3 separate regions of the Homo sapiens genome follow, and regions 1 and 2 are each linked to region 3. Evidence: fine-mapped expression QTL. A gene starts in region 3. Each other region holds a variant in brackets. All regions are shown on one strand. Distances are between the middles of the regions.

What was found.
Region 1: its variant is fine-mapped to the expression of VSIG10 in whole blood (TOPMed, PIP above 0.99). The same link has a PIP of 0.9 or more in breast and unexposed skin.
Region 2: its variant is fine-mapped to the expression of VSIG10 in whole blood (TOPMed, PIP above 0.99). The same link has a PIP of 0.9 or more in blood mononuclear cells, monocytes, monocytes after LPS, monocytes after Pam3CSK4, monocytes after R848 and monocytes after interferon gamma.

The regions. Positions count from the first base shown.
Region 1 is chr12:118,069,173-118,073,312 of GRCh38, reverse strand. It overlaps VSIG10 (V-set and immunoglobulin domain containing 10), which reads left to right. Exons shown (of 9, transcript NM_019086.6): 6 at 1,844-1,954; 7 at 2,246-2,261. The region is part of intron 1 of LOC124903030 (a long non-coding RNA gene); the gene reads right to left. Among named protein-coding and RNA genes, the nearest start is that of WSB2, 10 kb to the right of the region's middle. The variant T/C (reference allele first, on the strand shown) is at 2,322.
Region 2 is chr12:118,061,581-118,065,580 of GRCh38, reverse strand. It overlaps VSIG10 (V-set and immunoglobulin domain containing 10), which reads left to right. Exons shown (of 9, transcript NM_019086.6): 9 at 1-1,988. LOC124903030 (a long non-coding RNA gene) reads right to left here. Exons shown (of 2, transcript XR_007063479.1): 1 at 3,901-4,000. It also overlaps a transcript of WSB2 not described here. Among named protein-coding and RNA genes, the nearest start is that of WSB2, 2.4 kb to the right of the region's middle. The variant C/T (reference allele first, on the strand shown) is at 1,788.
Region 3 is chr12:118,102,108-118,106,247 of GRCh38, reverse strand. It overlaps VSIG10 (V-set and immunoglobulin domain containing 10), which reads left to right and starts at 2,237. Exons shown (of 9, transcript NM_019086.6): 1 at 2,237-2,655. The coding sequence starts at 2,577. It overlaps LOC124903029 (a long non-coding RNA gene), which reads left to right and starts at 2,666. Exons shown (of 2, transcript XR_007063478.1): 1 at 2,666-3,259; 2 at 3,981-4,140. RefSeq lists an enhancer at 1-502 and a silencer at 2,144-2,393.

The sequences.
Region 1 (4,140 bases), 33 kb after region 3:
TGGCTCACGCCTGTAATCCCAGCACTTTGGGAGGCCGAGGCGGGTGGATCACTTGAGGCCAGGAGTTTGAGACCAGCCTGGCTAGTATGGTGAAACCTCGTCTTTACTAAAAATACAAAATTACTTGGGAGGCTGAGATGGGCAGATCACCTGAGGTTGGGAGTTCGAGACCATTAGCTGAGCATGGTGGCAGGTGCCTGTAATCCCAGCTACTCGGAAGTCTGAGGCAGAATTGCTTGAATCTGGGAGGCGAAGGTTGCAGTGAGCCGAGATCACACCACTGCACTTCAGCTTGGGTGACAGAGCGAGAATCCACTTCAAAAAGAAGAAAATAGCAATAGAACTTTAAAAACAGGATGCCTGCTTAAATTTGAGTTTAGAAAAATAAATACTTTTAAGTATAAGTGTGTCCCAAATATTTCATGAGACATACTTACACTAAAAAAACTATTCATTGTTTATCTGAAATCCAAATTTCACTGGGCATACTGAATTTTACCTGGGAACCCTCCCTGTAGGCCTAGTCTCATCTTGGGCCTCTCTCGAAAGGTAACCATGGTCCTGAATTTTAAGTTTTACTATATATGTCTCTACTTATTTCTTTTTATTTTATTTTTTATACAGATGAGGTCGCACTGTGTTGACCAGGTTGGTCTTGAACTCCTGGCCTGAAGTGAGCCTCCCATCTCAGCCTCCCAAAGTGTTGAGATTGCAAGCATGAGCCACCACACCTGGCCTCTTTCTTCCCTTCCCTTCTCCCTTTTCCTTTCTCTTCTCCCTTTTCCCTTTCCTACCTTCCTTCTTTTCTTTCCCTCCCCTCCCCTCCTCTTTCTTTCTTTTTTTTTTTTGAGACGGAGTCTTGCTCTGTCACCCAGGCTGGAGTGCAGTGGTGCGATCTCGGCTCACTGCAAGCTCCACCTCCTGGGTTCATGCCATTCTCCTGCCTCAGCCTCCCAAGTAGCTGGGACTGCAGGCGCCCGCCGCTGTGCCCGGCTAATTTTTTGTATTTTTAGTAGAGATGGGGTTTCACTGTGTTAGCCAGGATGGTCTCGACCTCCTGACCTCGTGATCCGCCTGCCTCGGCCTCCCAAAGTGCTGGGATTACAGGCGTGAGCCACCGCGCCCGGCCCTCTTTCTTTCTTTGAGATGGAATTTCGCTCTTGTTGCCCAGGCTGGAGTGCAATGGCGCGATCTTGGCTCACCGCAACCCCCGCCTCCCGGGTTCAAGTGATTCTCCTGCCTCAGCCTCCCAAGTAGCTGGGATTACAGACATGCACCACCACACCTGGCTAATTTTGTATTTTTAGTAGAGACGGGGTTTTAACATGTTGGTCAGGCTGGTCTCGATCTCCCGACTTCAGGTGATCCGCCCTCCTCAGCCTCCCAAAGTGCTGGGATTACAGGCATGCGCCACTGCGCCCGGGCTCTAGTACCAATTCTTAAATAGTGCTTCCTTTGCTCAAGACCCTGTCATATATCAATTATACTTACGTGTGGACCCGTTCCTGGACTCTCTGTTCTGTTCCGTTGATCACTCTGTTTATCATGGCATTGATAACTCTCAACACTCTTACTTACCATGGCCTTAGAAATAGTCTCAGTGTTTGGTAGACAGAGAGATTTTAACTTTCCATTGTTTGTTCACATTCCCTGCTCCATCTGATCCCCACAAACTCTCTGAGGTTGGGTGATAAAATATTTATCTGGCATTACAGACAGGTCATAAGCCTTACCCAAGGTCAGGAATCAAGACAAGAACTGGATCCACGCAGAGAAAGGGAGGTGTTGTTCTAATTGCACACATATCTGATGGAAGAATCAATGGTGTGATTTGTCTTTACAGAACCTTTAAATATCGGGGGGATTGTGGGAACCATTGTGAGCCTCCTTCTGCTGGGACTGGCCATTATCTCAGGGCTTCTGTTGCATTATAGCCCTGTGTTCTGCTGGAAAGGTAAGGACTCCCTGGGTCCTTTAGCTTCTCTTCCAGACTTTTGAAAAGGTGCGGGATGGGGAAGGATGGCCCCTGCCTTGCTCCCACCTGAAGTTCTGTTCTCTGGGCTTCTTTGCTGGGTCAAGATACACAGTAATAAGTCACCTAAGTACCATCCCGGGACACCCTATCACCTGTCATATTGAGTCAGTTTTCTTATTTGTTCCTCTAGTAAATGTTTGCCTGATTAAGAACCTGTCAGGTTGAAGTGGATGTTACTGGATATTAATGGTTTTTCCTTTCTCTCTTCAGTAGGAAACACTTCCAGGTGAGTGTTCCCTAGAATCAAACCAAACACCCATTCCCGCATCTGTCTTCACTTCTGTTT[T/C]GTTCCCTTCCTTTCACAAGAACAATAATAGCAACTACCATTGAGGACCTACGATGTGCTAGACACTGGCCTAGGGATTTCATCAGGTATTCTTATAAACCCTTTCATCATCTCCTCAGGGTGGTGGTGACATCTCCATTTTCCAGATAAGGGGATGGAGGCTCAGTGAAGTAATTTCTGCAAGCTCATTCCAGAAGAAAGCAGCAGTGCCTTCCTTCAGGTCCAGGTCTAATCAATTCCAAAGTCTGTGTTCTTTTACAGCGCCAAACCTCAGGGCTGGACACATTGCAGGTCTGTCATTGAGACAGAAAGACAATGTGTACATTTTGAGCCAGTCATTCATGCATTTGTTTTATTTAATTTTCTAAAAAGAGCTAAAAGAAAGAATCAGTCATAGTCTTAAGTTTTTTTTTCTTTTTCTTTTTTCTTTTTTTTTTTTTTTTTGAGACAGAATCTCTCTCTCTTGCTCAGGCTGGAGTGCAGTGGTGCAGTCTCAGCTCACTGCAATCCCTACCTCCCAGGTTGAGGCCATTCTCCTGCCTCAGCCTTCCGAGTAGTTGGGATTACAGGTGCGCACCATCAAGCCTGGCTAATTTTTGTATTTTTAGTAGAGACAGGGTTTCACCATGTTGCCCAGGCTAGTCTCAAACTCCTGGCCTCAAGTGGTCTGCCCGCCTCGGCCTCCCAAAGTGCCGGGATTACAGGCACGAGCCACTGCACCCAGCCAGTTTTACAGTGTTTTGGAAGACTACTATGAGCATGCCCAGAACCCCCTCCCAAAAGGAAACCCCAGTAGGGGCGAAGGAACCAAACGGAACTTGTGTATTTCATTTCCTAAGGAGATTCTGGGTGGGAGCAGAGTACTCTTCTCTATGATCCTATGGAAAAACAGTTCTTTACCTCTTCAAAATGACAGGATATTATTGACCTGGGACCATCTTTCGTAGCAAAACATTACCTTTACTGCCCTGTATTGGAGGGCCATTCTTAGTAAGTCTGTCATTCCCTGGGCTTATTTCTCACTGGAGGCATCAGTGTGGTGTAGTAGGAAAAGGCACTGAGACCATTGGACCTGGGTTCAAATGACAGCTGTGCCATTCCCAAGCCCTGTACCCATAGAAAATCCCTGACCCTTTCTGAGCCTTAGTCTCCTGATTTGTTTCACCAGGGGGTTTGTGAAGATTAAATGACAATGTAACACAGCTCCTCGGGCAGGTGACTGACCTGTGGCGTTCATTCTTCTTCCTTAAGAAATGCATAGTCCAGGCCGGGTGCAGTGGCTCACGCCTGTAATCCCAGCACTTTGGGAGGCCGAGGCGGGTGGATCACCTGAGGTCGGGAGTTCGAGACCAGCCTGACCAACATGCAGAAACCCCATCTCTACTAAAAATACAAAAAATTAGCCGCATGTAGTGGCGCATGCCTGTAATCCCAGCTGCTTGGGAGGTTGAAGCAGGAGAATTGCTTGAACCTGGGAGGCAGAGGTTGCGGTGAGCCATGATTGTGCCATTGCACTCCAGCCTGGGCAACAAGAATGAAACTCTGTCTCAAAAAAAAAAAAAAAAAGAAGAAGAAGAAGAAGAAGAAATGCACAGTCCAGGCCGGGCACAACAGTGGCTCATGCCTATAATCTCAGCACTCTGGGAGGCCAAGGTGGTTGGATCACTTGAGGCCAGGCATTCGAGACCAGCCTGGCCAACATGTTGAAACCATGTCTCTACTAAAAATACAAAAATTAGCCAGATGTGGTGGCGCATGCCTGTAGTCCCAGCTACTTGGGTGGCTGAGGCAGGAGAATTGCTTGCACCCAGGAGGTGGA
Region 2 (4,000 bases), 41 kb after region 3:
ACTCTAAAATGAGAAGCTGGTTGTCTGAAGTAACCCTGCAGGTGTGGTTGGGGAAGGTCTGTTTTCTTGGATGAAGGAACTAAACTAAGCATATCAGAGCACTGTCTTAACCAGTTTTATTTCCCTGGAGATAGAATTCTTTTAAAAAGAGTTAGGGAGCTGGTAATAGGAAGTGCCTTTCATTATAACTACATTTTGCAGAGCTTCATATTTATATACAAGCCTCCTAGGTGATACACTGTTAGCTTGCAGACTTTCCTATGCTTCATTTCTCCTGTTGCTTTCAAAGAAGGCAGGAGACACGTTTAATAACGGAGTATCTGGTGATAAGAATTGCTTGGGCAAACCAGCTCATCTGGACTCTTTCTCAGTCTTGGAAGTGGGAAGAGGAAAACTTGTTTCCTTCCTGCTTCTTAAGGATATTCTGAGGGTACACTGATCAATAACACTAAATTTGGAATGAAAATACCATGTGATGAGTTTAGCCTGCTGATGCTTCCAGTAGATCCTTGTATAGTTTCAAGATTTAAGTTTTCCGATTTCATATAAATTTCTTAAAGTCGAGGACCTTATAAGGGTGCAATGGATGTTTGCTAAATATGAAAAACTGACTTGAATTTGCACTCTTTAATGTTGCGTATCTGCTCTAGTGGGCAGGACCTAGGGCTTAAAGGGGAACTTCCTTTCTCCAATTCTAGGAACTGGGACTCTAAAATGAGAAGCTGGTTGTCTGAAGTAACCCTGCAGGTGTGGTTGGGGAAGGTCTGTTTTCTTGGATGAAGGGATTAAACTGAGCAAATCACTAGAAGTATGCCCTGTCCCCTGCTCAGAACACTGGGGAGCTCAAGAGTGGGCTGCAATGTGCACCCCTCAGGAATAGCTGTGAATTGCAGGTCTACTGGCTTTTTGCTTTTTGTCTTTTGCTGCAAGGTACCCCACGTACTTAACCATTCTCAACAGTGTAAATCAGTGTCATTTTAGAATGAGATACTCAGCTTGCTTCTAAAGTCACTGAATTACTGAGTGAGTCTCTCCTTTAGAGTCTTCGGCAACCAAATTCCAGAATTGAAGAGTCTACTACTCAGAGGCAACAAGATTAAAAAAAGAAAACACAAAAACTGTTGAGGTGAAAAAAAAAAAAAACCCTAGCTAGGAACACAGAGAATGTTTTGTAGGATCACTGGGATATTTTCCACAACTTCCTCTTCTCTAGCACACACATCTGTTGATAGGAAATATTTGAGGGTTTTTCCACTACCAAATGGGAGCTTCATGGTCCTGGTGTCAAACACTATAAACCTTTGACCAGCTGAGCTGTGACTGCTGTCACATATCTGAGTCCTGTGTGCACAGTAATATCCTGGGTCAGGTAAAATCCAGGTCTTCAAGTTTTAAGGATTTTTTGAAGAATTCGGGCTTCTTTAAGACGATCCATGCCCAAATCCACAAGCTTGTTGACAGTGGATTACAGTTTGTGTGGCAAAGTCCAAGTTGTTACACTGTGCTTTAAAAAAAATCTTATCTGCATGTATTGTTAACTTAGAGACCATGAGATCTATTTATCAGGACCAGGAAGATACACACTTCAGGTCCATTGCAACTGACTTTTTTCTTGTTTTTCTCAAACCCTGGTGGAGCCTGGGAAGGGGGCCTCCACAATTCTGTGGCTTTGATATTAGCCCCAATTCTCACAAGCACATACAAGCCCCATAATTGCCGCAGGAAAACACAAGATGGAAAATTGCAATAACCCATGCACTGAGACTTAGAAAATCATCCTTACTAGG[C/T]AAAATGTATTATGATGCAATAAGTGCCAACTGATATTTCTCACGTTGGGACTGGCCAGGAACTGCTGCAAAGAAAAATAAGCAGCTCCTTCTCCATTATTTACATTTTAAGATGTGGTGGGGGGAGGTTGGGAGAAATTAGTTCTGAGGTTATCATATGCCTTTTTTAAAAGATAATGGAATAAAGCTATTTTTAAGTAAGTGCTTTTGTGATCTTGATTGAGACCTGGTTAGTAAATTGAAAGACTTGGAAAAACGAACTTGCCAAAAAAAATTTTTTTTACTAGCTTTTTAAAAATTGGTAACAATATTCTTCTCACCTCAGCCCCGCCTTTTTTGTTTTTTTTTTTTTTTTTTCCTCCAGACGGAGCCTCCATCACCCAGGCTGGTGTGCAATGGCAAGATCTCAGCTCACTGCAACCTCCACCTCCTGGGTTCAAGTGATTCTCCTGCCTCAGTCTCCCGAGTAGCCGGGTTTACAGGTGCCCGCCACCACACCCAGCTAATTTTTGTATTTTTAGTAGAGATTGGGTTTGGCCATATCGGCCAGGCTGGTCTCGAACTCCTGACCTCAGGTGATCTGCCCGCCTTGGCCTCCCAAAGTGCTGGGATTACAGGCATGAGCCATCGCGCCCCGCGACCTTACCCTTTTATTCTTTTCCATGACGTGTACATAAAAACGAGGCCTGTAAGACTCCAGGAATCGAAGGAATTTGGGAGACAAAAAATGGAGACTCAGAAAATTAGAGAAGAGAAAAATGGGAGGGGGGAGCCTGGACAATAAAACGGGGGTCCTCAGGAGGCAGGAAATTAGCGATTAAATGGGAGCAGAGGTGGAGGAGGCCGACACTGGTGCCAGAGATAAAAGTGGAGTCCCAAAAAAAGGGGTGCGCTGGGCCGTTTTTAAAATTGGGAAACATAAAAAATACCCAGTGGAAAATGAAGAGAGAGAACGGGGCATGCTAAAGTTAACATGGGCGGCGAGAAAGGGACAGGTAGCCAGCGGAAAAGGGGGAGACTGAGAAACCGGCAGGTTCAAAGAAAAGAAAAAAAAAAACCGGCCAAGCGGGGTGAACAGGAGTGTAACCCAGGAGGCCAAACGGGACACAGGAAGGACGTACCCAGGGCTCATAAAACAGGGGCCTGGGTAAAAAAACCCGAAACATTAAAACGGAGAGACCATGGTGAAAAAGAACACGGGAACCTCAGTTACCGTAGAAAACATAGGTTGCGTTAGGAAGCAAAGAAATTTAAAATGGAACCACTGCGATCCGGAGCTCTGGGACCAGTGACCGGCAAATGGAGAGGGCACTTGGAGGGAAGCGAAGAAAGGCGGGGAGAAAGGAATGAGAGGCGGGAGAGTGACTTGAATGAAGCTGACACCAAGAACCGCGGGAAGAGCTTGGGCCCAAAGCAGGAAAGGGAAGCGCTCGAGTTGGGGGTAAGGGGAGGCATTTTGGGGACAATGAGCTGAGCTCAGTAAGAAATCCCCAAGCCACTGATACTACTGGGGACCGGACAACTAAGAAATGGGGTCTTTCAGGCATGAAAAGCCTCCATGATGACTCCTGCCCTGGCCCTGGAATGTTAAAAAGGGGGCGTCTGACCCAAGCGAGCCATTTCTTGAGGCTATGCGGGTAGACAGGGAGAGCAGGTTTCTCAGGGGGACGGGGACAGGCGAGGCTGTCGCCGTAGGTAGGTAAGGGGACAGTCTTCTTCCGAATCGCTCCTGCCCCGTTTTTTATCTCGTTCCCACCCCCACTCCGGTTTTCACCCTGCCCTCCTCTCCCCACCGCCCCGTGTTCTCCTCACTTCCCTCTCCCATTACCGGAGCCATTGAGTAGCCCCCCTTGTTTTACCCTAGCCTTGACCCTCGCCGCACCCCCCAATTCTTACGTCCTCCCCAGCACCCGGTTATTACACCTTCCTTCCACCCCCTCCCCATTTTCCCCTAAGCCCAGCTCTCCCCAGGTTTCTTCTCGGCCAGTATTCCCTCCAACCTATTTCTCCCGCCCCCATTTTTACCCGTTTCCCCCCTCATCGGCCTTCGCATGGCTCCATTTTCACCTGCCCCTCCCCTCGATTTCGCTTCAGCCCCTTTGGTTCCCCTTACCCCCACAGCCCTCGGTCTCCCTCTCTCCGTTCTCCCCGGATCGCCGCTTCCCCTGCTTGGTTTTTCTCTCAGCCCGGCTCTACCACTCTCCAACACCCCC
Region 3 (4,140 bases):
TTGAGATTAGGGAGTGGTGATGACTCTTAAGGAGCATGCTGCCTTCAAGCATCTGTTTAACAAAGCACATCTTGCACCGCCCTTAATCCATTTAACCCTGAGTTTGACACAGCACATGTTTCAGAGAGCACGGGGTTGGGGGTAAGGTCACAGAATCTCAAGGCAGAAGAATTTTTCTTAGTACATAACAAAATGGAGTCTCCCATGTCTACTTCTTTCTACACAGACACAGTAACAATCTGATCTCTCTTGCTTTTCCCCACACTAACACGGTGAAACCCCGTCTCCACTAAAAATACAAAAATTATCCGGGCGTGGTGGCAGGAGCCTGTAGTCCCAGCTACTTGGGAGGCTGAGGCAGGAGAATGGCATGAGCCTGGGAGGCGGAGCTTGCAGCGACAGAGCGAGACTCCGTCTCAAAAAACAAACAAACAAAATTCCTGTCAAGAATCTGATGAACAGTTATTTTATTTTATTTTTTATTTATTTATTTTTTTTGAGACGAAGTCTCGCTCTTCTCCCCAGGCTGGAGTGCAATGGCGCGATCTCGGCTCACTGCAACCTCCACCTCCTGGGTTCAAGCGATTCTCCTGCCTCAGCCTCCCAAGTAGCTGGGATTACAGGCGCCTGCCACCACACCGGGCTAATTTTTGTATTTTTAGTAGAGACGAAGTTTCACCATGTTGGCCAGGCTACTCTCGAACTCCTTACCTCAGGTGATCCACCTGCCTCGGCCTCCCAAAGTGCTGGGATTACAGGCATGAGCCAACGTGCCCGGCTGATGAACAGTTATTTAAAAATATTTGAGCAAAGAATAAAAAAGGGCTGAGCGCGGTGGCTCGCACCTGTAATCCCAACACTTTGGCAGGCCAAGGCGGGTGGATCACTTGAGGTCAGGAGTTCGAGACCAGCCTGGGTAACATGGAGAAACGCTGTCTTTACTAAAATTACAAAAATTAGCTGGGCGTGGTGCTGCACACCTGTAGTCCCAGCTACTCGGGAGGCTGAGGTGGGAGGATCACTTGAGCCTGGTAGTTTGAGGCTGCAGCGAGGTATGATTGTGCTACTGCACTCTAGCCTGGGCAACTGGAGTGACACCCTGTCTCAAAAAAATAAAAAACAGAAAAGTAAAAAAGGCAGAACTGTTCAGCTTCATTGCTCAGTTCACCAGGAGAAACATTTTTTTTTTAAAGTGGTTTCAAGAGGATTTCCTCATGGAAGAAGCATTTCAATAAGGGGACCGTTGAACAACAGAACTAATGATTTTTTTTTAACGTTAATATTTATTTTGAGATGGAGTCTCGCTCAGTCGCCCAGGCTGGAGTGCAATGGCGTGATATCGGCTCACTGCAACCTCCGCCTGCTGGGTTCAAGCGATTCTCCTGCCTCAGCCTACCCAGTAGCTGGGATTACAGGCGCCCGCCATCATGCCCGGCTAATTGTTGTATTTTTAGTAGAGACAGGGTTTCACCATGTTGGTCAGGCTGGTCTCGAACTCCTGACCTTGTGATCCGCCCACCTCGGCCTCCCAAAGTGCTGGGATTACAGGTGTGAGCCACCACGCCCTGCCATATTATTATTATTTGAAACAGGAAGTTTCTCCTAGGGCTGTTTTATGGATGGCTCTTCCTGAGGATATCAAAGCCGCATTTTCCCCAGGACAGAATGGGATGAGGGCATGGCAGGGAAGAGAGGAGCTTAGCCTGGGAATCTGACTGGGTAAGGGGTGGGAGAACTAAAAGGGGAAAAGCAAAAACAAAACTCTTGAGAAACACGTCCTGGGGACTCCTTGGCTCTCGCTGTCACTGTGTGGTCCCAGCCAGTTCACTGGAGAACCGGAGTCTCGTGGCTGCTTTGGCTGAAAGTCAGGGGATCATCTTTCTCTGGCTCCCTTTTGCAGAGGGTAAGGAAAGGAAGCGATGGCGGCCTTGGCGCCCGCCCTGCGCCCAGGGACACAGACCGGAATCCCTCGAGACGCTCAGCGGGGACTGCCAGGGGGGTCCTGCGTTCTGCAGCTTGGCAACCGCTTCCTCCGGGTTCTGCAGCCCGGGGCAGCGGCGGGGGTTGCGTCCTGCGGCAGCTGCAGGGCTCCGTCCCGCCCGCTGTCCCCGCGACTCGGTACTGCTGTCCCGGGCGGAGTGGACTGGGGAGGGCCCAGCCTCCGCGCCCCGCCCCTGGCCCGGCGGGACCCGGCTCGGCGCGCCCTCGGCAGAAAGCCCTCCTCCCGGGCCAAGGTAGAGGAAGTTGGGCTCCCGCCTGGCTGGGAGGCGGGAGGGATCCCGCTCCTGTTGTTTTCCGCCGGCAGGAGTAGGCTGGCGGGCGCAGGGGGCGGGGTGCGCCCTCCCTCCCCGGCCAGGGCGCTCGGGAGCGGGGACCCGAGCCTGCAGCCGAGCTCCGCTGCCGGCCCTGGACACTCGGCTCAGCCAAGCATCCTTCCTGGGGGCCGAGGAAGTGGGGCCACTCTGCCGTTCCGAGGACCTGGGAGGAGCCCTCGGTACCCCGGGCCCCGGGGCCCTGGGGCACACACGTCCAGCCCAGCCCGAGCCTGCGTTTCCTGAGCCGGGATCTGGGGCGAGATGGCCGCAGGCGGCAGTGCGCCCGAGCCCCGCGTCCTCGTCTGCCTCGGGGCGCTCCTGGCCGGCTGGGTCGCCGTAGGTAAGGGGCCGCGATCTGGAGGGAAAAGTTGAGTTTTCCCAGTCAGCGGTGGGGAGGGGACAGCGAGAGACCCAATTCCCTCCGACTCCGCCCGGATCCGTGGTGGCCCCAGCCTAGAAGCTGCCCCAGGAGGGTCTTGGTTTCCTGCTCGCAGCTCGGCCGTCTTTGCAGGAAGGAGTTTTCCCGGGCGCCCGGTGCGGGGCGAGATACCCCCAGCCTCCTGGGGTGGGCAGCCGGTGAGGCTGCAGAGGAGCCGAGCCGAGCCGACGTGCGGGGGCAAAGTAAAGAGGCACGTGTGCCGGGAAAGTGATTTTTTTTTTTAAGCGTCGGATGTAAATTCGCGTTCTGGTTTTAGTAGTAACTGATACGCTGGTGCTCAAACTCGAGACTCCCACTTTATTTTTCTCCTCCCTCTGCCCAAGGTTGAACTCGCCTTACACCTGTAACCGGTGGACTTCCCTACACACCTTTGCAAGTCTTCCTGTGCCGACCAGCGCCTTCAAAGCGGGGTCTTCCGCCTTTACTTTTGGAAAAGCTTTTTATTTTGAAATACTTGGCTGACTTACAAAAGACTTCCCCTCACACTTGACATGATTGACAAAAGGTCTGAAATGCTTCATCTATGGTCTGCTTTGCTACGAAAAAAGAATTGGAGGGGTGCTTACAAAAATATGTAGAATGTAAAAAGATTGAACTATTTATATATATTTGAATTTAATTCACCAGCATGCCTACTGTGCATGCCTACTGTGTGCTGGGAGTGTGACAAGCTGGGAGGAGGCTGGGGTGCAGGGAGAGGAGATGGAGCCAGGAGGTGGTGAAGTTTGCCAGGATGCAGGCAGAGCGCTACTTTTTGTGTTCCCGGGTCTGCTCCACCCAACGGGTCTCCTCTTGCACGTTTCTGGAGATGGGTTGTAAAGTATGCTGGAGCTTCTTAGCAGCAAGTGCCAAGAGTTCCTAATTATTAGGCTCATACAATTTTATTTTGCTTTTTTTTTTTTAACCAACCATTTAAAAACAATAACATCTCTAGATTTCCAGTTTATCTGGAAAAATCTGAAGGTCTGGCAACACGGGGCCTGCTTTCCCAGTTGGAATTGGGCAGTGGTCATCCTCTTATCTAGGGCATATGAGCCCAAATTTGTTCCACCTCTCCCTGTTGTAATATTTGCCCCGCCACCTTCAGTCATGGGTGTTACCTGCTGGCCCTGCAGGCATTTGGCTGAGTAATCACTGTGCTGGGGTGTGGGTGATGGGGGAGGACAGTTCCTAGTTGGTCATCTCTGGACGTGAAAGGTGGTTGTCAAGTATTCCCATCTCCCCAGCTGTTTGCAGTGTTTCCTGCACGATGAACACCAGGAACCTGGGAAGTGAGAAGAACCCTGGGATGAAGTCATCCTGCTGGAATGACCTGGCTTTCAGGCTGACTGCCACCCGCCCCATGGGGAACCTATCTCCACTGCTATGGCCAGCTATTTTTTTCGA